Homo sapiens: one gene and its partners. The protein of the gene in region 2 interacts with the protein of the main gene of each other region in a pairwise test. Each region holds a gene or a part of one and is shown on either strand. Other genes may lie near its edges.

Region 1 (3,500 bases), on a different chromosome or scaffold from region 2:
TGCACCCAACATAGCAGCACCTAAATATATGAAGCAGACATTAAGGTATAAATGGTGAGATAGAGTGCAATGCAGTAATAGTAGGGGACTTCAACACCCAACTTGCAGCAATGAACAGATTGTCCCGACAGAACATTGACCCCACAAAAAGTGGGATTTATCTGCACTCCGGACCAAATGGACCTGACAGTCATTTACAGAACATTCCATCCAAATACTCCAAAACACATATTCTTTCCAACTGCATGTGGAACATTCTCGAGGATAGATTATGGGGCAGGTCATAAAACAGGTACTAGCAAATTAAGGGAATTTGAAATAACATCAAATCAGTTCTCTAACCACAACGGTAAAGTATTAGAAATCAATAAAAGTAGGAACTTTGGAAACTTTAGAAGTGGATGGAAATTAAACAACATGCTCCTAAATAACCAATGGGTCAATGAAGAAATTAGAAGCAAAGTGTAAACATTTCTTGAGTTGAAGCAAAATGAAGGCACAACATACGAAAACCCATGAAATACAGCAAAAGCAATTCTAAAAGTGAAGTTTACATCAATAAAACCTACCTCAAAAGAAAAGATACATCTTAAATAAACAACCTCACACTGCACCTTGGGGAACTAGAAAAACAAGAAAAAAATGCAATGCAAAATTAGGACAGAAATCATAAAGGTCAGAGCAGAAATAAATGAATAGAAATGAGAAGAACAATACAAATATCAATGAAACAATGACTTGGTTTCTTGAAGAGGTAAAGCAAATCAACAAAACTTTAGCTAGACTAAGGAAAAAAGAGAGAAGATTCAAATAACTAAAATCAAAGATGAAAAAGGACACAGCACAAATGACATCACCAAAACAAAACGTATCATAAGGAAGATTATGAACAATCATCTGCCTACAAATAGGACAAGCTAGAAGAAATGGCTACATTCCTGGACACATACAACCTACCGAGATGTAATGGTGAAGAAATGGAAAATCTGAACAGACCATTAATGAGTAAGGAAAGTGATTCAGTAATAAAAAATCCCCCATCAGTGAAGAGTCCAAGACAGAATGACTTCCCTTCCTAATACTACCAAATTTATATATAAAGAAGAATAATTAATAGCTATACTTTTAAACCTATTCCAAAAAAAAAAAAAAAAAAAAAAAAAAAACGGACAAGAGACGAACACTTCCGAACTCATTCTGTCACAACGCATTACCCTGGTAGAAAACCCAGATGAGGAAACAGAAAGAAGAGAAAACCAAAAAAAACTACATGCCAAAATTCCTGATCAACACAGTTGCAAAATCTTTAACAAAGTATTAGTAAAGCAATTTCCACAGCACATTAAAAAAATCATTCACCATGTTCTAGAGGACTTCATCCCTGGGATGCAGGGAAGTTTCAACATACACAAATCAATAAATGTGCTATATCACGTGAAAAGAATGAAGGAAAAAAGCCATAGGTTCATTCCAATTTCAGCAGGAAAAGCATTTGATTGAATTCCACACCTCTTCGTGACTAAAAACTCCACAAATTAGGTATAAGAGGAGTGCACCTCAACACAATAAAGGTCATATATGATAAACCCACAGATAACATCATACTGAATGGGGAAGTGTTGCAGGCTTTTCCTCTAAGACCTGGAACAGGACAGAAATGCCCACTTTTGCCCTTTCTATCGCACATAGTTCTGGAAGTGCTAACCAGAGAAATTAGGCAAGAAGAAACAAAAGGCATCTAAATTCAAAAGGAAGAATTTAGATTGGCCCTGTTTGCAGACGGGAAGCTGTTACTTATAAATAACCCTGAAGACACCACCAAACAGCTACTAGGTCTAATAAACAAATTCAGGAAAGTGGCATGAGACACAACCAACATACAAGAATCAGTAGTATCTCTATACACCAATAGGGAACTATCTGGAAAAGATATCAAGAAACAATCCCATTTACAACACCTTCAAAAAAATTAAAATAGGAATAAATTTAACCAAGGAGGTGAAGGATTGCAACACTGAAAACTATAAACCATTGACGAAGCAAATTGAAGGAGGCAGGAATGAATGGAAATATATCATGTGTTCATGAACAGGAAGAATAAAATATTGTTAAAATGTCCGTAACCTAAAGCAATCTATAGATTCAATGCAACTGCTATGAAAATACCAATGACATTCTTCTTGGAAATAGAAGAAATACTCCTAAAATTTGTATGGAACCATGAAAGATTCCAGACAGCTGAAGCAGTCTGGAATACAAGGAACAAAGCTGGAGGCATCACACTATGATGTCAAAACATATGACAAAGCTATAGTAAGCATAACAGCACAGTACCAGTATAAAAACGGACACATCAACCAATGGAGCAGAATACAGAGCCCGGAATTAAATCTGTGCATTTACAGTCAACTAATTTTTGACAAAAGGCCCGAGAACACACAATGTTGAGAAAGTACAGTCTCTTCAATAAATGATGTTGAAAATAACTGGATATTCATCTGAGAAAAATGAATTTCCACCCTTATCTCTCAGCGTGTATATAAATCAACTCAAAATGATTTAAAGCTTTAAAATGAAGACCCAAAGCTGTGAAACTACTAGAAGGAGACATAGGGGGAAAGCTCCATGACATTGTTCTGGGCAACGATATTTTAAAAACAGGACCTCAAAAGCAAAGGCAAGAAAAGGAAAAATACACAAATGGGATTACATTGAACTAAAAAGCTTCTGCACCACAGAGGAAACAATCAAAGAGTGGAGAGACAATCTATGCGATAGGAGAAAACATTGACAATCTATGTATCTAGTAAGGGGTCAGTTTCCAAAATGTAACTCCAACAACACAATAGCAAGAAAACAAATAATCCTATTAAAAATGAGCAAAAGACCTGAATAGACATTTCTCAAAAGGAGACATACAAATGGCTAACAGGCATGTGAAAAAACACTCACCTTCTCTAATCATCAGGGTAATGCATATCGGAACCACAGAGATACCGAGTCACGCATGTTAGAATGGCTAACATTAAAAAGACAAGATATAACAAGTGTTGGCAAGGATGTGGAGAAATTGGAAGCTTTATGCACGGTTGGTGGGATGTAAATTGTTACAGCCACCATGGAAAACAGTATGGACATTCCCCAATATTTTAACAATGGAACTATCACACTATCCATGAATCCCACTACTGAGCATGTATCCAAAGAGAGTGTCATCAGTGTGTCAAAGAGATGTCAGCACTTCCATGTTTGTTGCAGCCCTATTCACAATAGCTATGAAATGAAAGCAATCTAAGTGTCCATCTACGGATGAGTGTATAAAGGAAATGTGGTATAAATACACAAGGGAATGCTATTCAGCCATAAAACAGAACAGAATATTGCCGTTTGAAATAACCTGGATGAACCTGGAGAATGATATGTAAGTGAGATAAGCCAGTCACACAAAGACAAATACTGCACGGTCACATTCACATGCAGAAGATAAAAAAGTTGATCTC
Region 2 (3,500 bases):
AGATGACAAGGCCAAGGGTCATAGAGAAATTGAGTCGCAAATGTGCAGAGCTCGCCACACCTTTTGACCTCTGGACTAGTTTGGTCAAGAGAAACTTCCAACTCTACCTCAGGATGGATAAATTCCTGGTCACTGGGAGGTCCAATCAGAAACAGGACATGGAATTCTCCCCTTGGGCTTTACTTAGAACCAGTCCCAGGAATATACAACTAGCATAGCAGCCCATTCCCATCTGAGATCTCTCTGAAGAATATGGACATTTTCCTTTCACTCCTTCCTATCTTCTTTAGTCTGAACCTCCATTCTGGAGCGGGATTGATCCTTATGACAAGATAAAATGGTAGCATGGCATTTTGGCTTACTATTAGGAGTTTCTTGATTTACCTAACCACCGCGACCATATGCTGTTGGCTCAGTTTTGTGCTTGATAAAATCTTAGCATGTTACCAACAGAGCCGCTTTGACTATGTTATGTTACATTTTAAAGCAGAGATTTAAAATTTGGGTGGGATAGGGAAAGGAATATGATGTGTCAAAATCCTGAGAGGGTATCTGGAATCTTAAAAATATATTAAATATTAAAATATAATTTGGGTATAACAAAAGACCTTGATCATCCCCCTAATATAACCTATTCAAAGTAAAAGGCTTTTGCCTCTTGTGACTGTGGGTAAGTGGTTTAATCTCTTAGCTTCTGCTTCTCATCTATAAGATATGGATAATATATTATTATCTAATGCATAAGATTGTTGAGACAATTAAATGCCATATGGTATGTAAAGTACAGCACTTAGCACATTGCCTGATACAAACTAACCACTGAATAAATGATATCATTATTATTACAATGATTACATTATTAATACTATTATTGGCCTGGTAGGGTACATAGAATACAGACTCTTTTTTTTTTTTTTTTTTTTGAGACGGAGTCTCACACTGTCGCCTGGGCTGGAGTGCAGTGGCGTGATCTCAGCTCACTGCAACCTCCACCTCCTGGGTTCAAGAGATTCTCCTGCCTCAGCCTCTCGAGTAGCTGGGATTACAGGCGCCCACCACCACGCCTGGCTAATTTTTTTTTGTATTTGTAGTAGAGACGGGATTTCACTATGTTGGCCAGGCTGCTCTCGAACTCCTGACCTCTTAATCCACCTGCCTTGGCCTCCCAAAGTGCTGGGATTACAGGCGTGAGCCACCGCGCCTGGCCAGAATACAGACTCTTAATTTAGATGACATGGCAATTCTTAAGAGGGAGTGCGTGAGTTATTTTTGGCTATAGAGAGAGGATTTTTAAAAGGCTGAGAAATATTATTTTCAAGGAAAACTGTGCCCACAGCCTATCACTTTCTATTTATTGCCTTTACTTTGTAGTGATGCCAGTTTTGAAGAAATCCCATATGACTTTCAGTCAGGTATTTTGTAAGACCATCTGTCTTCATTTTGGCTCGTCAAGGAAATCCAATCCTAAATATTAATCAGTTGAGAGGGCTGGCTGTAACTGTCTTATTAACCAAGTTCCCACCTTTAGCTCCCAGATCCGGATCTATGTACTGTTCTAAGTTGTTTGATGTGGTTCTCACCTCCTCTCTGAGCTCATACTGATCGATGATGCTTTTCAGCTTTTCTGCAAGCTCTGTGTTCTCCTGACAGAGCTTCATATTTCGCTCACTCTGCTGCTCGATCTGGCCCTGGATGTCCGTGAGGGTACTCTGGAAATGGCTTGTGATTTCCTTCCTTTTCTCTTCTTCCTCACGTGCCCGCTGAAGCGCCTCTTCCTGCGGATAAAAAGCAAAACATTTTGTTTAAATGCACCCCGGGTTTATAGAACTCAGCATTAGGTCACCTAAAGGAGATAAGTGTGCAGAGTAGGTGGGATGTTTTTTCTCAGTTCTCTAGAGCTAAAGCTGCTCAGCCCCAAAATAAATGTATGAGTAAAGGTTTCAGCTGTGAGTACATAGTTACTCAGAACAGGTGCTGTGAAGGCCTTGAATTTGTAGTCAGTGATGAATAGACTTGTTTTAAAGATGATGCGTCTCTTGCTGAGTGAATGAACTGCAGCGATTTCTAACAAACACACAGTCACACGATTTTGATCTCTTGGCTGTGGCCTGAAAAAAAGGCCACTTGAGTTTACTGATGGATGAGACAGATCATGTGTTTCTCTGGTTTGGTAAAGGGAGAACAATAGATCTTATATTTCCCTGTAAAAACCATGGCATATTAACCACATAATTATATTACCAAGTTTTGTAAATATAAGTGATCACAATAAAAATTTTCTATTTGTGAGAAAAAACTTTCATCAAAAAGCTTTAAAAAAGGAAACTAAGACAGCATAGCTCAATTACAGCCATTCAAGAATATAAAAGGGAATCTTTCCAAACATGCTGGATATTATTTTGTTTTTGAAAGAACAATCATTAAATGTGTCACATAGGGTAATTAAAATGTTCAATGTAAATTTTGAATCTGAAAGCAATATTAAGTTTCAAATCTTCTTTAACTCTAAAGTGAAACATCTAATTTTCCTTCTTCCGCTTTGTTAACATTGAAGAATTGCAAATTAACTTTTATATCATTTCTGTTCTCTTTTCTCCTAAATCAAAACTCTCCATTCATTGCTAGCCACTAACAATGAGCTCCAATTTCCTCCATATCTATATTGAGAATTGCTTTGCGATTGTTATTCTTTTTGAATAAAAGGGTTTAATTTTGCTACATCCTACCAAAGATAGAGACATTTACGTGGCTGACAAATGATACAGACATTTTAGGATTCCTTTCAGTTCTGATTAATTGTTAATATGAAAGCTTGCTTCGTTGTTGGCAAGTAAAATTATACTGAATTTGATTGCCTACCAAGTTCAAATTATGTAACAGGATTTTTTAAAAGAAATAATAATTTTTAACAGAAGTAATTGTACAGACCTTTATCATAACAGAATAATGTGATCCAAATAAAAACTGATGCTGAGAATATATGCTCTGAAAATATTTTATCATTAGGTTTCTTCTTTCCTCTATAATAACAACACATTTCCCAACTCTAATGTGACTCCTGATGTCAGAATCATAATTTATTCATGTTATAAACCTTTATTAAGCAACAACTTCTCAGGGGTATTGAAGATATCTGTACTTCTTAAACTGAAGAAATAAACTATCCGAGATGTTATTTCCCTGAACTTTGTATACTAACACTTACTATATGTGTTTCGCTAAAAATAATTATGGTTACCAGTTAGGAGCAACTAAATATATGTGTGATTATGATTGTTTCCTCACTGGTCCTGATTAGCTTAGAAGTCAGCAAGTTTGGAATCAGAACTACAGACCATGATTTGAATACCGTTTGTATTTATAAATATTCCATGAATGAATAAATGAAACACCCCATGCAAGTCTGAGTTGTTGTTTTTTTTTTAATTGGGAACTGGCTATAGAAAGAAGGTACAGATGATAGGATGGCACTAAATAAATGTCAAACAAACAATCATAAC
Region 3 (3,251 bases), on a different chromosome or scaffold from region 2:
GAAGTCTGATGGCTGGCCTCCCCTCGCCAGAAGGCCGAGTCTTTTGCCCCTGAACAGGCACATGTCATACACCTGCAATGTGAGATGATGCTCTTCAGTGACCATGATGGATCAATACAAAAATAACTAATTCTTGGCAGGGCACAGTGGCTCATGCCTGTAATCCCAGCACTTTGGGAGGCCGAGGCGGGTGGATCACGAAGTCAGGAGATCGAGACCATGGTGAAACCCTGTCTCTACTAAAAATACAAAAAATTAGCCAGGCGCGGTGGCGGGCACCTGTAGTCCCAGTTACTTGGGAGGTTGAGGCAGGAGAATGGCGTGAACCAGGAAGCGGAGCTTGCAATGAGCCGAGATCGAGTCACTGCACTCCAGCCTGGGCGACAGAGCAAGACTCCGTCTCAAAAAAAAAAAAATTAAAATAAAAAAAAACCTCATTCTTTAACCATGTCTTGAAATGTGACAGAAGAAAACACTTTAAATTGCAAACATACCCCAAATTTTTCTCTTCTCACGAAATGTGACTATCTTTTAATATCTCACACATCTCACAGTCATCTATGGCTTTTGGTCATATTCATTACCACAGTATATTATTACACCCTCTTTGACGACACTTATGCCACTGGTGGTCTTTGGTCAGAAGTCACTCATAAGAACATGAGATCACCTTTGGTATTTAGAATAGATGAAAATTCATGATCCAGATAAAAACTAAGAATATAAGCATGAAAAGTAAAATCTACATGAGGAAAAATATGCCTGACATCCACATGGCAACACTGACTCACAGTGACCACCGGATAACATGGTAACATTATCAACTTGATCTAATACATGATGTTAATGGGAGGTTGTAATGTAGCTTCTTCATTAAAAAATAATAATTGTTAGTATGCAGTTGTTATAAACAGTTAATAAGCTTATTTCTAAAATACATGAACAGAAGTATTTGTTGCCAAGAAACCGCATTAGTGTTTTTAGTCAGGTATACTCATACAAAGTTAAAAACGAAGTGAGACATTACATTCAGTTGTGAATAACAGCAAATGCTTGAAATTTCCTGATAAGAGCAAGGTGGCTCTTCTCACATAAAAGCCCTTGGTGAGACCAATCACTGCACAATGCAGCAGAGGAACAAGCTCCCATCTAGTTGGTTTAATCAAGAACAGGCTCGCTAATCCGTAGAAACAACAATGCTTGCAATACAAAGTAGACCTCTTAAACCAACTCAATCTATAGAAGAGTTGGGCATCAGTGAGTATTTCCAGCCATAACAACATTTATTAGTTCTCTGGTAAACATTTTAACATTTCTGAAGAAACAGCAAAGTGGGCATGTATCTTTAATGTGGAGCACTGGGGACATATCTGGAGACCTACAACTCTGAGGAACAGAGACAAGTGATTTGGGGGATATTCTCGATTAACAAGCCAAAGAATCAGGAAAATGGGCTGGAAGCGGGTAGCCACACACCTCTCTCCCTGTGTGGGGCCTCTAATATGTGACTGATGCCTTCCTTTTCTGTGCCTTTGAAATCTCATGCAAGATTGGCTATAGGTGAATTGTATTACGAAACCATCCAAGTTCTTCTAGATTTTATTGTCCTATCGCAAGTCTCTCTTCTCAATTCAAAAAGCAGTTATCCAGAGGTTCTTTCACCACTCTCTTTTCTTGTGTTTCAAAGGAAGTGGGACAACAGAAAGCTTCTCCCGTTGCTTCCACTAAAAGGATTTCTCATCTATTAATGGTATGAGTTCTTTCATGTTCTCGACATGAACTGGCACGAATAAAGGCTTTGCCACATTGCTTGCATTGATAGGGTTTCTCTCCAGTGTGAGTCCTTTCATGATATCGAATGTAATTGGAAATAAAGGCCTTACCACAGTGCTTACATTCATAGGGTTTCTCTCCAGTGTGAGTCCTTTCATGATATCGAATGGAACTGGAACAAGTGAAGGCTTTGCCACATACCTTACACTCATATGGCTTATCTCCAGTGTGTGTCCTTTCATGTATATGCAAGGAAGAGAAATACCTGAATGCTTTTCCACATTGCTTACATTCATGGGGCTTCTCTCCAGTGTGCGTCCTTTCATGTATACGCAAGGAAGAAAAATACTTGAATACTTTTCCACATTCCTTACATTCATGGGGTTTCTCTCCACTGTGCGTCCTTTCATGAATTTGAAGTTGTGAAGCACATCTAAAGCCTTTCCCACACTGCTTACATCCATAGGGTTTATCCTCAGTGTGTGTCTTTTCATGCCTTTGAAGGTCCGAGGTACATCTGAAGGCTTTACCACATTGCCTACATTCATAGGGTTTCTCTCCAGTGTGAGTCCTTCCATGCTTTTGAAGGTGTGAGCCACATCTAAAGGCTTTCCCACACTGCTTACATTCATAGGGTTTCTCTCCAGTGTGAGTCATCTTATGATACTGAATGGAACTGAAAGAAATGAAGACTTTCCCACATTGCTTACACTCATAGGGTTTTTCTCCAGTGTGAGACCTTTTATGTCTACGAATTTCACTAGGAAAACTGAATGCATTCCCACATTCTTTACATTCATCGGCATTCACTCCTGTGTGAGTTCTTTCATGTACTGGAAGGGTAGTGGAACGAGTAAAGGCCTTACCACATTGTTTACACTTATATGGTTTCACACCAGTGTGAATTCGTTCATGGATAAGACATAAATTGAGAAAATAGAAGGCTTTCCCACAAAACTTACATTTATAAGGTCCATCTCCACTGTGCATTACCCTGTGTCTTTGAATGCATGAATGGGAAATGAAGGTTTCTGTACATTCTTTACCATCATAGGGTTTCTCTTTAGTGCAAGCTTTATCATGTGATTGAAAGGAGTCAAGATAACTGAAGGCTTTCTTACATTCCTTATTTCTATATGGATTCTCTCCATATTCCTGATACTCAGATGACTTGTGTCCAGTGTCAGCTCTGATATGCGTATTAAGAGATGAATGACCCGTGCCAACTTCTCCACACACACTGCTTTCACATGGTGTTATTCCAGGAAGAGTTTTCCTGTTCAGCATGTCATCTGCAATCTGGTTGAAGCTTTCTCCACAGTGATGACTTTCTTTACTTTCACAGAGTTTCTCTCTCATAAGACTTCAGTGAAAAATGAGAAGCACATTATTAACGGTTTGATTAAAAGTGACTTATAGGGCCGGGCACAGTGGCTCACTCCTGTAATCCCAGCACTTTGGGAGGCTGAGGTGGGCAG
Region 4 (3,243 bases), on a different chromosome or scaffold from region 2:
CCACATGGCTCTGCAGTCTTGGATGGCAAAAACGAAGGAGAGAACTTGTGAATTCCTACCGTTATGGTGGAGTGATCAAGATTATGAATTAGATGCCTGCTGGAATTCTCCTCTTACCCTTGTCCTCACAGCTCTCTTTTTCCCCTTCTACCTTCAAATATCACTACTTATAGCCTTTCCTTTATGTTTAAGTTTGTTTCTGATTCTTCAGGTTCTTATTTCTACATCTATGAGCATATTGACTTCAGGGACTGGATCTTATTAACTGTTTTATCCTCGTTATCTGGCACATAGCGTGTTCTCAGTAAGTACTTTTCGTACTGAGACAAAGGAGACAAAATTTTACAGAGAAGTCAAAAAGACTCCAACTAGTTTTCACATTAAACTTACTTCCAACTTGTGAAGACTGTTGAATTAAACAGAAGAAATTAAAGACAAAATTCAGCTTCCATTTGGGAGGGTATATCTAAAATGCAAAGATTGGCCAGAACCAGGGAAGATGACTTGCAACAGGAAGAACTTTTATTGAAACACCACCATAGAGAAAAAGCCAAAGAAATGGTACTATTCTAAAAATAACTTGTCTTAATTCATTGGAAGAAAAGCAGAAAAATAAGGGGACCCTTATTTAGGAAACTAGCTTCATTTTGGTATTTTAATTTGGGGGCCATTCTGTCTCAGAGGCTGGAGTTCAGGAAGACACCCTCTGTTCATTCTTGTTGTTGACTTTGGTGGATTTCTCTTCCACAGTGTGAACTCTGGATGAGAGAACTTTGCCACGAGGATCTATCTCTTCAACAACTGTTTTGACAATGGTGGTTTTAGATGAATCTAAAATGCCACATATAAACTGTTTAGAATTTATCAAATTCATAAATAGGAAATAAAACATCATTTGAAACACATACAAATAAACACTGAATGCCTAACACAGCTTTTGTTTACCTTTTGTTTGATTTCCTGGGCCTCCATAGCCTTTTGATTTAGAACAGGAGCTGTAAAAGTATAGAGCGCTTATATTAATTATTCTGTTTTACTGAGGAAACTGAAAAATAATGATTTAAGGTGGGAATTCACTGCATTCTGAAATAACACTAAAAGAGTATTATCTATGCGTGATCTAGATCATAGATATTTTGTACTTGATTTCAAATCATCTTTAGTAACCTTAAAAATGAATTGTTTTCTCAATGGCGGCAATACTGACCCATCTTCTCCATCTATCAGGAGGCAGTAGGTCTCAATTTCTTTTTCCAGGTGGACCTTGATGTCAAGGAGCTGCTCATACTCGAGCTTCTGGCCCTCGGTCTCGGTTCTGACCTGGTGCAGCTGCTCCTCCAGGGCCCCGATCTGAGCCTGGATCTGTGCCAGCTGTGCACAGTAGTTACTCTCGGTCTCTGTCAAGGAGCACTCCAGGGAGTGTTTCTGTAGTTTGGTAAGACATGGTTTAATAGAAAAGGTCACGGTGTTTTAGAATAAGCCAAAGCATTTAAGAGATAATTAAGAGAATTATCCTTACATCATGCAAATAATTATATTTACCCAAAAGATTCCACTTCTTCAATATTAATTGTTGCCTTTATTAAATGTCCTACTACTTTTCTATTTGAGAATGACACAGCTGGTGCTGAATGTCCCTCAGATGCCCAGGTGTGCTAAAAAAGATGAAATTGTCTCTTCATAGGGCACAGACTGAAAGATCCCTCCCCTGCACCAATATAGCCTGTGCTTGTAGAGTGTGGCACAATTTGCTACTTTACCCACAACTAGAAGTCCGCCTATACTTTGCTACTCATTTCTAGCCATGTGACAGTCTTGTCTTATGAGGATTGTAGCTCTTCTATTAAAAAGTCATCCTGCAGTAAACCGCATAAACGTTCCATGAGTAGAATAAACCACAGAAAATAATTACCTTCTTAGACTTTAAATACAGTAGTTCAATTCATTGGCTTGTGAATCTGAATGGGTTTACAGATATACTCAGAGGGAACACTCACTGCAATTTTACATGGAATGAAGATGAGAGTGTCTTATCCTTTCACCTGCAAGTATTTTTTATATAAAGTCTTGATTTTATATACATTCATAGCCTCATCTGTGGATAAACTCTGGTGGTTTACTAGCCATAGTGGGAAAAGTATAGACTTGGGAGTTAGAAAATTTGGAGAGAACTTCTGGATTCCTTCATACCCAACTGTGGGACTGTGGGAATTGCTTAACTTCTTCGAATCTCAGAGTCCTCTTTTGGAAATAATGACATGAGTTATAACGTCTGCCCTGCCCATGCCCCGGGGTTGTTGTGGACTCACATGTGGGCGGAAGTGCTGGGCAAACCCTTAATGAAAGCAGTTATGATTATCATTACACATGTTTAGTTTTATAGTCAGCCTTCATGCCTCGACTTTTCCTCTGTCTATGCCACTTACAAAGGAACTTGTAAGTGCTCTTAATTGAGTGGCCAAAAGGAATGCTAGATGAAGCTAGGAGTGGTGCAAATGTATTTTTGCTCTCTTTAAGCAGTAGGATTTTTTTTCTTTTTTTTTAAATGGACACATAAGAATTGTATATATTTATGGGGTTCCATAATTATATTTCAAAACACACAATGTGTAGTGATAGAATCAGGGCAGTTAGCATATCCATGGTCCCAAACATTTATCTTTTTTGTGTGTGTTGGGAACATTCAAAATCCTCTCCTTGAACTATTAGAAATTATAGAATAAATTATTCTTAACTGTAGTCATTCTACAGTACTATAGAACACTTGAACTGATTCTCCCTATTTCTCTGTAATTTTGTATCCTTTAACCAACCTCTTCCTATCCCCCCATCCCCTTCCCAGGCTCTAGTAAGCACTTATCCCACTCTCTACTTCTGAGATCAACTTTTTTAGCCTCCACATATGAGTGGTTTTTGATATTTTGACTTATGATAGAAGATTCAAAGTCAAAACGATTTTCTTTTTCCAGTATCTTGACTGTATTTGCTAATTTCTAATATTTCATAATTATTGGCATCCAGCTATACTTTGTAGGCAAAGAGGATTGTCATGTGCAAAATGCAAATATGTCTTATGTCAAGCACTGTAATTAATGGTTAAAAACTAAAATATGTAATTATGTTGGAAGAAAATTCTCTTCGATTATTTTTTTCTCAATTTCTAAAGCAAATCTGTTTTGTAACTTTTCGCTTACCGTTGCTAAGAGGGACTGAAGTTCAATCTCAAGGGTTTGAAGAGTGCGT
Region 5 (3,500 bases), on a different chromosome or scaffold from region 2:
TCATGGTTCAGATTTCATCATTATTCACAATAGAATATCCAATTGTGCAGAGTGAGATTGATTTGAGAATAAATGAAGGACAGTTGAGAGATATGATAGAGGATTTAATGGGTCATTCAAATAGCAAAGGTGTAATACATTTCATAATTAAACCTTGTTGAGGTCTTGGTTATTAGGCAAAAGTTAACGACTGAGAATTGATATCTGGCCAGGATGTAGTTCATTTGCACCATTTTGCTATTATATGAGTTTAATTTCCATAAATTGTTAAAAAACATACTTGGTTATTGTTTTAATTTTTTATTTAATTAACAGTGTTTTGGAATTTTTGTATTTGTATTATAGATGAATATGTGTGTGTGTGTGTGTATATATATGTATATATATATACTCACTTTGGTAAAACTTAGCAATATCATGTAACAGAAGAAACCTAAAGGATTTTTGGATGTTTATTTGCTTTGTAGTTTTTGACAGATTTAATTTATATTTGAATTATCTGAGGAAAAACTTCAATATGTAATTCACATTCATAGTCTAAAGACTATGAAGATATAAAGATATTGATTTATCTACATTTCAGAATGAACAATAGACATAAAATTGATTTCTTCTAAGGAAATTCTTTTAATGCTTATATACAGATAATGAGAGAGATTCACCAAAGTAAGCTTTTTCTAAATGTTTGGTTTGATAGAAAAATCAAGTACTGTATACAGGCAGTTCTATCTAGTTTTGCATTTAAGCAAGGATATGGTTCTCATATGCACAAGTTTCAGTAACATGGTACCATGCAAAATGAAGACTGCCTGTATAACAATAGCATTTTTATCTAAAAAGACCATTCCCCAGTATTCTTTATTGTAAGTCATATTTAGTATGACATTATGACTTTTAACCACTCTGTAGACAATGTTACCATTAATAGTTCCATCAGTATCTGAAATGTATAAAACCAGATAATTTTGTCTGACAAACTGGCTTCTCTTTTACAACTTCTCCAAAAATTGCTTTCTAAAAGTTAGAAGAGCCATGTCCACTTAGAATAAAATGATTTAATAAATAAAGGGCTCAATTAGGTAGATTCTAGATACCTAGGAAATCAATTCATCATTATCTCAATAAATTTATTATTAATTTGTAAACAGTTGATAGTTTTATTAGCTTTCTTAAAAGTTTTGTTAAAATAGTATCACCACCTATATATAATTCATGCTTTGTATCAGCACTCTGGGGACAAGTAAAGCAGAATTTTTATTTTAATGCATGAATATACTTGCATTTTAAGGAACCAATATAGTGTTGAAATGTAACCTTCTCTGAAATGATATTTAAATATTTGTAGATATTTGGAAACATATCTCATATTAAATTATTGGTATTTAAATTGGGGGAGATGATTTTTTTCTGCAATTTACTGCCTTAGAATTATGGAAAGAAACATTCCTTTTAAGTAACATGATAGACCCCTTTTGTAAATTGTCTAAAGATTTACACCAAATACTCTCTACAGCAGAACAGTACACAAGACTCTGGACTACAGGAAAGTGAAGTATCAGCAGAAAATATCTTAACTGTAGCCAAGGATCCAAGATATGCCAGATATCTCAAAATGGTTCAAGTGGTAAGCTAACTTGGTCTGTCTTCTTTGTGTAGCAGCCTCACTTGAAATTCTTAACCCTGGAGGTTTTACTGTTATTTTTTTCAATCTGAGAAAACTGCTAAACCAAGTAACCAAGTTTTCTATTCTCTTACTTCCTTTCTATTTTAATTCTCTGATTAAAAAAAAAAAAGGAAGTCAAATCTTTAGAATTGATCCCACACTTTAAATTAACATAGTTTAATATAGATTTATGTACATTTTTTTGCATTACACAAAGTTATCAATGCAAATCTTAGATACAGAAAGTAATGAAAGTAGACTATTCATTTGGTAAATCAGTTGACTCTAGCTTAATCCCCATATTATTAGCACAAATAATATTTTTTAAAAATTTTTATGTTTATCAATGATCTCTTGGCCATGTGTAATGCTTTTAATATTATATGACTTCAGAATTCATATTTTTCCTGAGAAATCATAACATGCTGTGGTACCAAAAATATCTGCAGTTGTCTGTGATAGCAGAAGCTAACATTTTTTTATTCCTTTAGAAAGTATTTCAGTAGTTGAAAGAGGTAGTTGTCCATCATTTTTCTGTTAATCAAACAGTTAAAGCCTGGCGCAGTGACACACACCTCTAATCCTAGCACTTTGGGAGGCTGAGGTGGGAGGATGACTTGAAGACAGGAGTTTGAGACCAGCCTGGGCAACAAAGCAAGACCACCTACTTCTACATTAAAAAAAAAAAAAAAAAAAAAAACCTAACTCCATATGATGGCATGCACCTGGTAGTGCCAGCTACTCAAGAGGCTGAGGTGGGAGGATTGCTTGAGCCCAAGAGTTCAAGGGTGCAGTGGCTCACCTCACTGATTGTGCCACTGTACTTCAGCGTAGGTGACAGAGCAAGACCCTGTCTCAAAAAATAATAATAATAATAATAATGCTTTTGTAAAATTATATTATCAAGCAAAAGAAGCACAATACTAATACTAAAGGACAGTTTTGTTTTGCTGTCCATGGGATAGTTTATCACCTAGTAATTTAAAAGCAAATTCTGACAACCAGAAAGAGTAGATTGGCTCATTTGGAAGCTGCACTTTTCCTAGCTATCAGAAGTGGATTTTTCACTTCCACAGTTCTTTTTTTCTGAAGCCTAGAGCTCAGGATATTGGCGGTCAATTTAGAAAAAAATAAACCAGACTTTGGGATGAAAATAGATGAAGTTTTTTTAATTAACAAGAATAAAACAAAGCCAGTTTAAGTATGAATCATGATGAACACGTTTTTAAAGCTAGAACCCAGGAAAGCCTAAGCTTAAAAGATAGACTTGTTAAAAAACAACAACAACAACAACAACAACAAAAACTATTTCACTCTTTTAAACAAAAGGGAGATGCTTCTAAATGACTCAGAAAGATTTTTTATGTTAGCCCCTTCTTGCCAAACCTATATAAAATAACAAACAGGAAAATCTACTAGGTGATACTCTGTAAAAATGCCCTGAAATCTTTATGAAGGCTGCATCTTAGGATAACTGTTAAATTCTTGATAATTGTCTTCAATTTTATAAGAACTTCAAAAAATCTTTTTCTTTTTAAATCCACCATCTGTTTATTTCACAAATATTTATCAAACACTTACTTGAAGCTAAGCTACTGTATTAGGTATTATCTAGATTTATTTAGCCAACTAAGGTTTCCAGATACCACTTGCAATTTTTATTTTTGTTACTAATTACGTCAACAAGTTCAATTGCTTTTCAGTCATAAATATACATATAAAATAAATGACCCGGGCCGGGCATGGTGGCTCACTCCTGTAATCCCAGCACTTTGGGAGGCCGAGGCGGGCGGATCACTTGAGGTCGGGAGTTTGAGACCAACCTGACCAACATGGA
Region 6 (3,500 bases), on a different chromosome or scaffold from region 2:
CCCGGGAGGCGGAGCTTGCAGTGAGCCAAGATTGCGCCACTGCACTCCAGCCTGGGAAACAGTGCAAGACTCCGTCTCAAAAAAAAAAAAAAAAGAAAGAAACATAGAGAACAACGAATCAGGAATCAAAAGAGGAATCAATCAAGAGGAATCAGAGGAATCAGAAGCCTTCCCAGCACCCTCTCCTTGGAGAGAGGCAGGAAAATCTCTAGGGTCACATCTCCCCTTGGCTTCCCAACCAACACTGTATCCACACTTACTTTGGCAGCTTGAGAGAACTTGTCCTGCTCAGGCCGAGAATGTAGTTCATAAGTGACAAGGCTGCTATCTGGGGGGGTCCCAGTGGTTTTTCCCCCTGATCCCCCTTTGCTGTTCTTTGTTGCTTCCAGCTGCAGTAGTAGGCGCCTAGTTAGGAGACCGAGTAATAATATCATGACTGGAAGGAGAAGGGCCAGTCACTCTCCCTCACTTTTGCCTCATAATCAGCATTAAGAAACATCTAAGCCACTTCTCTGCCACTTAGCACCCCTGTCAGTAGCTGGCTGAGTCCATCCACAACCCCAGTCAGCAATGATTTTTCAACAAAGTAGGGTACCCACTTAGCCAGGGCGCCATCGGGGTCGGTAAGGTTGATTGCAGCATCTGGTCCCAGCAGCTTCTCCAGGTGGGAAGCAACCAGCTGCTGCTTCAGGGCTGCCAGCTGTTTAGCCAGCAACACAGGGGTCAGCTTCTCCTCTGTGGCTGACTCCTTCACTGTCGTCTAGTATGAAAAAAGGTAGAAATCGGGGGATGGCAAGAATGAATCAAGAAGCAAAAAAATAGGTCAAGCCCTTTAAAGGTAGTTGTAGCTGGAGGTCACTGGGATGGTTTTCAGCATGACAGACTGCCCACCTGTATGTAGCACTGCATACAGATGGATGCATATTTGTAAACTCTGGAAACCTTAGCCCCTTTATCCAGGAGCTTAAGGAATCTTTCTTTCTTTCATTTTTTGAGATGGAGTCTCGCTCTGTCACCCAGGTTGGAGTGCAGTGGCATGATCTGGGCTCACTGCAACCTCCGCCTCCGAGTTCAAGCAATTCTCCTGCCTTAGCCTCCCGAGTAGCTGGGATTACAGGTATGCGCCACCACACCTGGCTAAGTTTTTGTATTTTTTTAGTACAGATGGGGTTTCATCATGTTGGCCTGGCTGGTCTTGAACTCCTGACCTCAGGTGATCCGCCTGCCTCGGCCTCCCAAAGTGGTAGGATTATAGGCGTGAGCCACCGCACCCAGCCAGGCAGGGAATCTTTCTCTTCTTGCTTGAGGTCTTCCTCTACTGTGTAAGTCACAGCAGAGAAGGGAGAAGAGAGTTTGTAGTTACCTTGATTTTTTCAACTTCAGTTGTCAGCTCTTGGACCTCATGCAGTAGGCGCTGGTACTTTTGCTGGGGTGTCTCCTTCACTCCCAGACCCTCTCCAAGCTAGAGAGCAGGCACAGAGGGTAATGTTATATGTCTCATTACAGGGAGCCTCAAGAATTCATCCACACCCTGGGCCTAAGTCATAAAGGTATCATATCCAATTGAGAATCCACAACACCCTAGTACCAAAGAACTGAGGACAGCTAGAGGGCTGGAGGCTCTCCAGAACAAACAGCAGTAGGGCAGAGTTTCCCTGGCTGCATCCTGCTGCTTCCTCAGGAACAGAGGAGGAACAGAATCCCGCCTGTATCCCTTGATCTCCCTACTACATGTCTGCTAGATAGGGTCACTACACCATTCCCATCAACACACACACACACACAACAAACCATCTCATATTCTCCAGATTCATATCCTGTCCTCTTGGTTTTTCCAATACGATCTGAGAAATCTGCCAAGAAAAGAAGATGGAACTGAGGGCCTGATCTAGGCCCAAGGCAGTCATGGTCTCAGGTGACTGTGAGGGCTTCCATAAAATATCTCCATGAGGGACCCCTTCCCCCAAGCACAACTCACTAAGACTTTAGGACAGGAAACCACTTCTCATGCTTATCCTCCAGTCTTCCCCCCACCCAGCTTCCAGCCCAGTCTCACCAAGTCCCTTTGTCCCCACTCTCTTGTCCTTGAACTTGTCATAGGCAGCATTAGGATTGACAATGATGTGTTCCACACTTGTGCTTGTCAGCTCCTCCTGCAAGAACAGGTAGTTTAGGCCAGGGACACACTCATTCCCACTCTAGAACTTACTCTACCCCACAAAATCCCCAAACCATTAGGTGACTGGGCCCTACTTGTCCAAGGGGAAAGAAGGGTGGCTCTATTCCAAGGCGCCTACCCAGGCTTAACCTAGGAAACTGAAGCTTCCTGGTAAATTTGGAGCCTCAGTTGTATAAATATTAACACCCTCATTCAACTGGGAGCAGAGGGAGCATAACCTCCCCACCCTCTCTGTACATAAGCCTTCCCATCCCCCCATGCTACCCCTCCCAGTTGTCTGGCACACGCCATGCACTCAAGGCAAGAAACCAACCTGACCTCTTTTAACCTCCCCCTCCCAAAAGTAAATCTTGCCCGCTGAGCAAGTCCATTTTAATGCTAACCTCCCATCCTTGCTAGAAGGAAAGAGGAGGGAAGGCAGATAATCAGGCCACTAACACTGAGTGTGAATATTAGGACTTTAAACCTGTTGAAGGTAAGACACAAGCTCTTAGTACAAAAAGAAGGCCGACAGAGGGCCTGACCAGAAGCCTGATTTCCAGGCTGCCATGAGGCCAGCGAACTCAGGGACAGGGAGAAGGGGCAAGGGCTTACTGGATTATCTTTATGGGACATCTTAGAAGCAACAAACATAGGCAATATCTGCTTGCCAAGAGTATCCATGGGCAAGAGCCACATGTAAGCTCTGAAATGGAGATAAACCAGCATCTCTTCAGAGACGCTGCAGCACCTGATTTTTCTCCCTGACTCCTCTGCTATGCTTTAAGCACTGAAGCTCTTCCAAAAACAGGGGACACAAGTAGGCGGTGAAAGAGACTTCACCCTAGAAACTGAAGCAGAGAGGTTCCCTCCTTACTAGATATCTACATGCTGTTCAGATTCCAGTGACAACACCAAGACTGCACCAAGCACTCCTGACTGCATGTCCCTTTTTCAATTGTCAGAAGCCTGACAGCTCCCAACAGAGTACTGATGGAAGTAGGAGGGAGACCCAGGAGTCCTTTTCTGTTGGGGATGACATCTCTACCTTCTATGGGAGGAAGGCAAAATGAGCCTTCCTTCTTTCACCTAGAACAATGGTTCTCACCCCAGGCTGCATGTTAGAATCACTTATAATTTTTTTTTTTTTTTAAATAGACAGCCGGGCAATGGTGGCTCAAGCCTGTCTGTAGTCCCAGCACTTTGGGAGGATCCTAATTCCAAGTGATCCACCCGCCTCGGCCTCCCAAAGTTCGGCCAAGGCGGGTGGATCTCAGGAGTTCAAGACCAGCCTGGGCAACATAGGGAAACCCCAACTCTACAAAAAATATAAAATAGCTGG
Region 7 (3,500 bases), on a different chromosome or scaffold from region 2:
TTCCATCATGGTTTTGGCTATTTCAGCATCACGTTTCTGTTATTAAAACAAAATTGATCTTTCCGTTTTCAAATTTGAACATAGTACGATAGTATATTTTACACCAATGTTATTGAATATTATAAAGTCTTTTACATAAAATAAATTTTTTCATCTGTCTAGGTTAAAAAGCAAAAGTAAGTTATTATTACCTGAAGGGTGTGAACAATAAGTCAGACCCTAAAGCAGCTTTCCTATCCCTTCAAGTAGCTCTCTCAGGACAATACCTGATAAGGATTATTAATAACTCCACATTCAAAAAACAATGAATACAATTGTAAGTAGTTTCTTAATAACTATTTAGCTGCTAAAGCAGTCATTATCTTATTATTCTATTTATAAACTGAGCTAGGCAATTTTCATCGTTTTTAGCTTCATTGTTTATCAGCTGCTATTTAAAGATGGTACTGCCTCTTTCTTACAGGTCTGCTATTAAATGGCTTTGAGCAGCTCTTAAGTTTCTCCTAGCCTAAACTTTCTTTCCTGCCATTGGCCCTTGACGTTTCCCCTTTCTGATTTATTAAAGGCCCTTTATCTGAAAAGAATCACAGATGCTACTGTGCCTATTTTCTACAGCTTTTAATTCACTCAAGACCATTCCCATTGTCAAGAGACAATCTTTCTTCTTGGATGGGTTAAACCCCTTATTTCTTTTGAGCATTTTTCAAATCATTTAATAAAATAAGTTTTAAATGAAATATACTGAGGCAATTTTTTAAACTACGCTTTACTTTTATGATCACATCCCGAATGATGGAATGGTCAGCAGCATCAAACATAAAGAGTAAACAGATTAAAATATGAATACTGAATGTCATTCCTGACGTCACTGAAGCCTTTAACATATACTCTGATAATATGACTTGACCAAAAATGTTTCTGATTATCTTCTTTGTACATGCTATACTAAATTCTTTATTAAAAAATGAGATGACAATAACATTTATGTGTAGATTACCACACACTTACCGAAAACAATGTTCTCATTTTACAGATAAGAAAACTAAGGCTCAGAGAAAAAGCCAAAACTAGTACTTGCATGACACCTAGTCAAGTCCTAGTAGTATTCGACTTTCATTTTGTGGATCAATTTTTATTTGGAAAATAGCAGCAATTCTCGTAGGAGTCAGATTAAAACGTCTACAACTACCTTGAATAACTTCAACTATCAGGATAATTAAAACTGCAAACCACTGGACAAACAGGACATTGTTTGTGCTACTTTCTTTTTCAAAGGACAGCGCTATATGGCTTAGCAAATGAAGTCTCTCCACCTTTTCTTATCACCTGCCACACCTAAAGGTATTCCTGTTAACAGCATGCTGTGTACCCGCTAGACATTTTCTATACTAACACAATTGTACACACGCAACACACACATATATGTGTCATTTATGGTATCTATTCTTAATTGATACCCATATTGCACTGCACTGGTTAAGTATTTTGATATCACCCCATAAGAGTGTGTGTGTGTGTACATATGTTTATGTGGACATACACAATAGATATGTATGTGTATATAAACATTCATATATAATTGGCCCTTCTGTTTGATAATGAGAGCTCAAGGGATGATGTGCACCCTTTTAATTAACTGTTAATTCAGTAAACCCTATTATATATTCATACAGCAAAGCACTCCTAGTGAGTATGCCTGAGATTCCTTTGCCCAAGAGTAACTCTTATCTTCAACTTGGTACCATATCAGGAGTTAGAAAAGGGGATAAAAGCAGAGAGAAACATGAGAAAAAGAGATGGCTTTTATAAAACTGGAAAGTTTCCTACATAAAATTATCAAGTAGTTTACTCTTAAAAACATTTAAATAATTAAAAATTTCATAACATTCTAAAATACACTTATCATGGTAACAATTTGTACTGTACTACTTTGTCAGTGAATAATCAGTTAGAGACTATAAAGAATGCTGGGAGTTACTGAATATAGCTGGTCATTCTAAGCAGCAATGTGTTTCTGAAAGGCTCTAATATTAAAAATGAAATCACGCAGGATTTTCTACATCTTAAGGATCTGAAAATTTACAAATATTTAAGAAATCTAGCAGTGTAAATTCTTTATACAATATGACAATTTTTTAAGAAACAAGTCTAATTTTTATTTTCTAAATGAAGCTAAAAACATAATGACCAGAAACATGATTACCATTTGTTCATATTTAATGGCATCCTTTTCAGCAATCTGAGCTGCCCTTTCTTTATTCATGTAAGCTGCTTTTAATTTCTTCTCCAATTCTCTAAGCTCAATGCTGTTTAAAAAAACAAAAACAAATTTAAATGTTAGGACCATAAGAGAATGAAAACCTCACAGAAAACTGAGTAACTGTATTTTTAATTTACTCAAAGAGGGAATACAGCGGGTATTATTTTAGATCCATAGGAGAAATAATTCATTATATTTAATGGATGCCTTTAGGGCATTAGGGCTTACATTTTCTGGTTGAAAAGTACTGCTCTGTTCTATTACATTCATCTGTTTGCTTATCCTGTGTCAATACCACACTATCTCAACTGCTGTAAATTATAATACGTCTACATATCATGGATAAGTCTCCAATTTTGGTCATCTTCTTAGAGACTGTCTTAGCCATTCTTGATACTTTCATTTCCATATACATTTTAGAATCAGCTTGTCAGACTTCACAATAAACAAAACTGGCTGTGATAGTACTGAATTCATAAATCAATTTGGAAAGTACTAATATCTTTACATTACTGAGTCTTCAATAAACATAGTATATCCTTCTAATTATTTGGTTTTTTAAAAGTCTATCGATGTTTATATCTGTGTTTTATTTTGGTAGTTTTATACTTTTCATTAGGTATTTTTCATATCCTTCTGTAGATTATTTTTCAAATCTCACTTTCTAATTGTTGATAATTTACAGAAATACAATTAATGTTTATATACTAAATTTATACCCAACAATATCACTGAATATATTTTTTAGTTTTCAGTTTTACTGATCTACAATATTCAATAAACTGAACATGTTTAAAGGATACAGTTTGATAAGTTTTTACATATGTATGCACCTGTGAAACCATCACCACAATCAAGATCATGAACACGTCCCAATCACTTCCTTATAAACCTGTGGTACCTCTCTTCTACCCCTTTATGTTCGCACTTATCCTGAGGCAAGCTAATTTGCTGTCACCTTAGGCAGTATAAATTTTCTAGAATTCATATAAATGGAATCATAGTGCAGGTACCATTTTTCTCTGGCTTCTTTCACTCAATATTTTCAAATACATCCATTTATTGCATATAGTAATTGCTTACTCCTTTTTATTGCAGGATATTATTTTAAGATTATAGATATCCACTCGCATTGCTTATCTATTCACATGCTGATAGACATTTGAGTTGTTTCAGGTATGTGGATATTGCAAATAAAGCTGCTATGGAAATTTGAGTACCAGTTATTTGTGGTCACAGG

The links.
Region 1: the proteins of TXLNB (region 2) and CT55 interact in binary tests that used the Homo sapiens proteins (3 or more experiments, as listed by UniProt).
Region 3: the proteins of TXLNB (region 2) and ZNF20 interact in binary tests that used the Homo sapiens proteins (3 or more experiments, as listed by UniProt).
Region 4: the proteins of TXLNB (region 2) and KRT27 interact in binary tests that used the Homo sapiens proteins (3 or more experiments, as listed by UniProt).
Region 5: the proteins of TXLNB (region 2) and WASHC3 interact in binary tests that used the Homo sapiens proteins (3 or more experiments, as listed by UniProt).
Region 6: the proteins of TXLNB (region 2) and DCTN2 interact in binary tests that used the Homo sapiens proteins (3 or more experiments, as listed by UniProt).
Region 7: the proteins of TXLNB (region 2) and MNS1 interact in binary tests that used the Homo sapiens proteins (3 or more experiments, as listed by UniProt).

What each region holds. Positions count from the first base shown.
Region 1 is NC_000023.11:135,164,899-135,168,398, forward strand, and holds part of CT55 (cancer/testis antigen 55), read right to left. Parts: intron 1-3,500. UniProt on the Homo sapiens protein: Plays a role in spermatogenesis, possibly acting in the regulation of the autophagy pathway.
Region 2 is NC_000006.12:139,260,999-139,264,498, forward strand, and holds part of TXLNB (beta-taxilin), read right to left. Parts: intron 1,776-3,500; coding exon 1,581-1,775; intron 1-1,580. UniProt on the Homo sapiens protein: Promotes motor nerve regeneration. May be involved in intracellular vesicle traffic.
Region 3 is NC_000019.10:12,130,850-12,134,100, forward strand, and holds the end of ZNF20 (zinc finger protein 20), read right to left. Parts: intron 3,137-3,251; coding exon 1,738-3,136; 3' UTR 501-1,737; downstream 1-500. UniProt on the Homo sapiens protein: May be involved in transcriptional regulation.
Region 4 is NC_000017.11:40,776,308-40,779,550, forward strand, and holds the end of KRT27 (keratin, type I cytoskeletal 27), read right to left. Parts: coding exon 3,195-3,243; intron 1,426-3,194; coding exon 1,208-1,425; intron 996-1,207; coding exon 946-995; intron 832-945; coding exon 692-831; 3' UTR 501-691; downstream 1-500.
Region 5 is NC_000012.12:102,037,992-102,041,491, reverse strand, and holds part of WASHC3 (WASH complex subunit 3), read left to right. Parts: intron 1-1,513; coding exon 1,514-1,624; intron 1,625-3,500. UniProt on the Homo sapiens protein: Acts as a component of the WASH core complex that functions as a nucleation-promoting factor (NPF) at the surface of endosomes, where it recruits and activates the Arp2/3 complex to induce actin polymerization, playing a key role in the fission of tubules that serve as transport intermediates during endosome sorting.
Region 6 is NC_000012.12:57,533,693-57,537,192, forward strand, and holds part of DCTN2 (dynactin subunit 2), read right to left. Parts: intron 2,154-3,500; coding exon 2,057-2,153; intron 1,854-2,056; coding exon 1,792-1,853; intron 1,463-1,791; coding exon 1,364-1,462; intron 761-1,363; coding exon 600-760; intron 406-599; coding exon 261-405; intron 1-260. UniProt on the Homo sapiens protein: Part of the dynactin complex that activates the molecular motor dynein for ultra-processive transport along microtubules. In the dynactin soulder domain, binds the ACTR1A filament and acts as a molecular ruler to determine the length.
Region 7 is NC_000015.10:56,444,638-56,448,137, forward strand, and holds part of MNS1 (meiosis-specific nuclear structural protein 1), read right to left. Parts: intron 2,307-3,500; coding exon 2,204-2,306; intron 1,247-2,203; exon of another isoform or gene 1,034-1,246; intron 37-1,033; coding exon 1-36. UniProt on the Homo sapiens protein: Microtubule inner protein (MIP) part of the dynein-decorated doublet microtubules (DMTs) in cilia axoneme, which is required for motile cilia beating.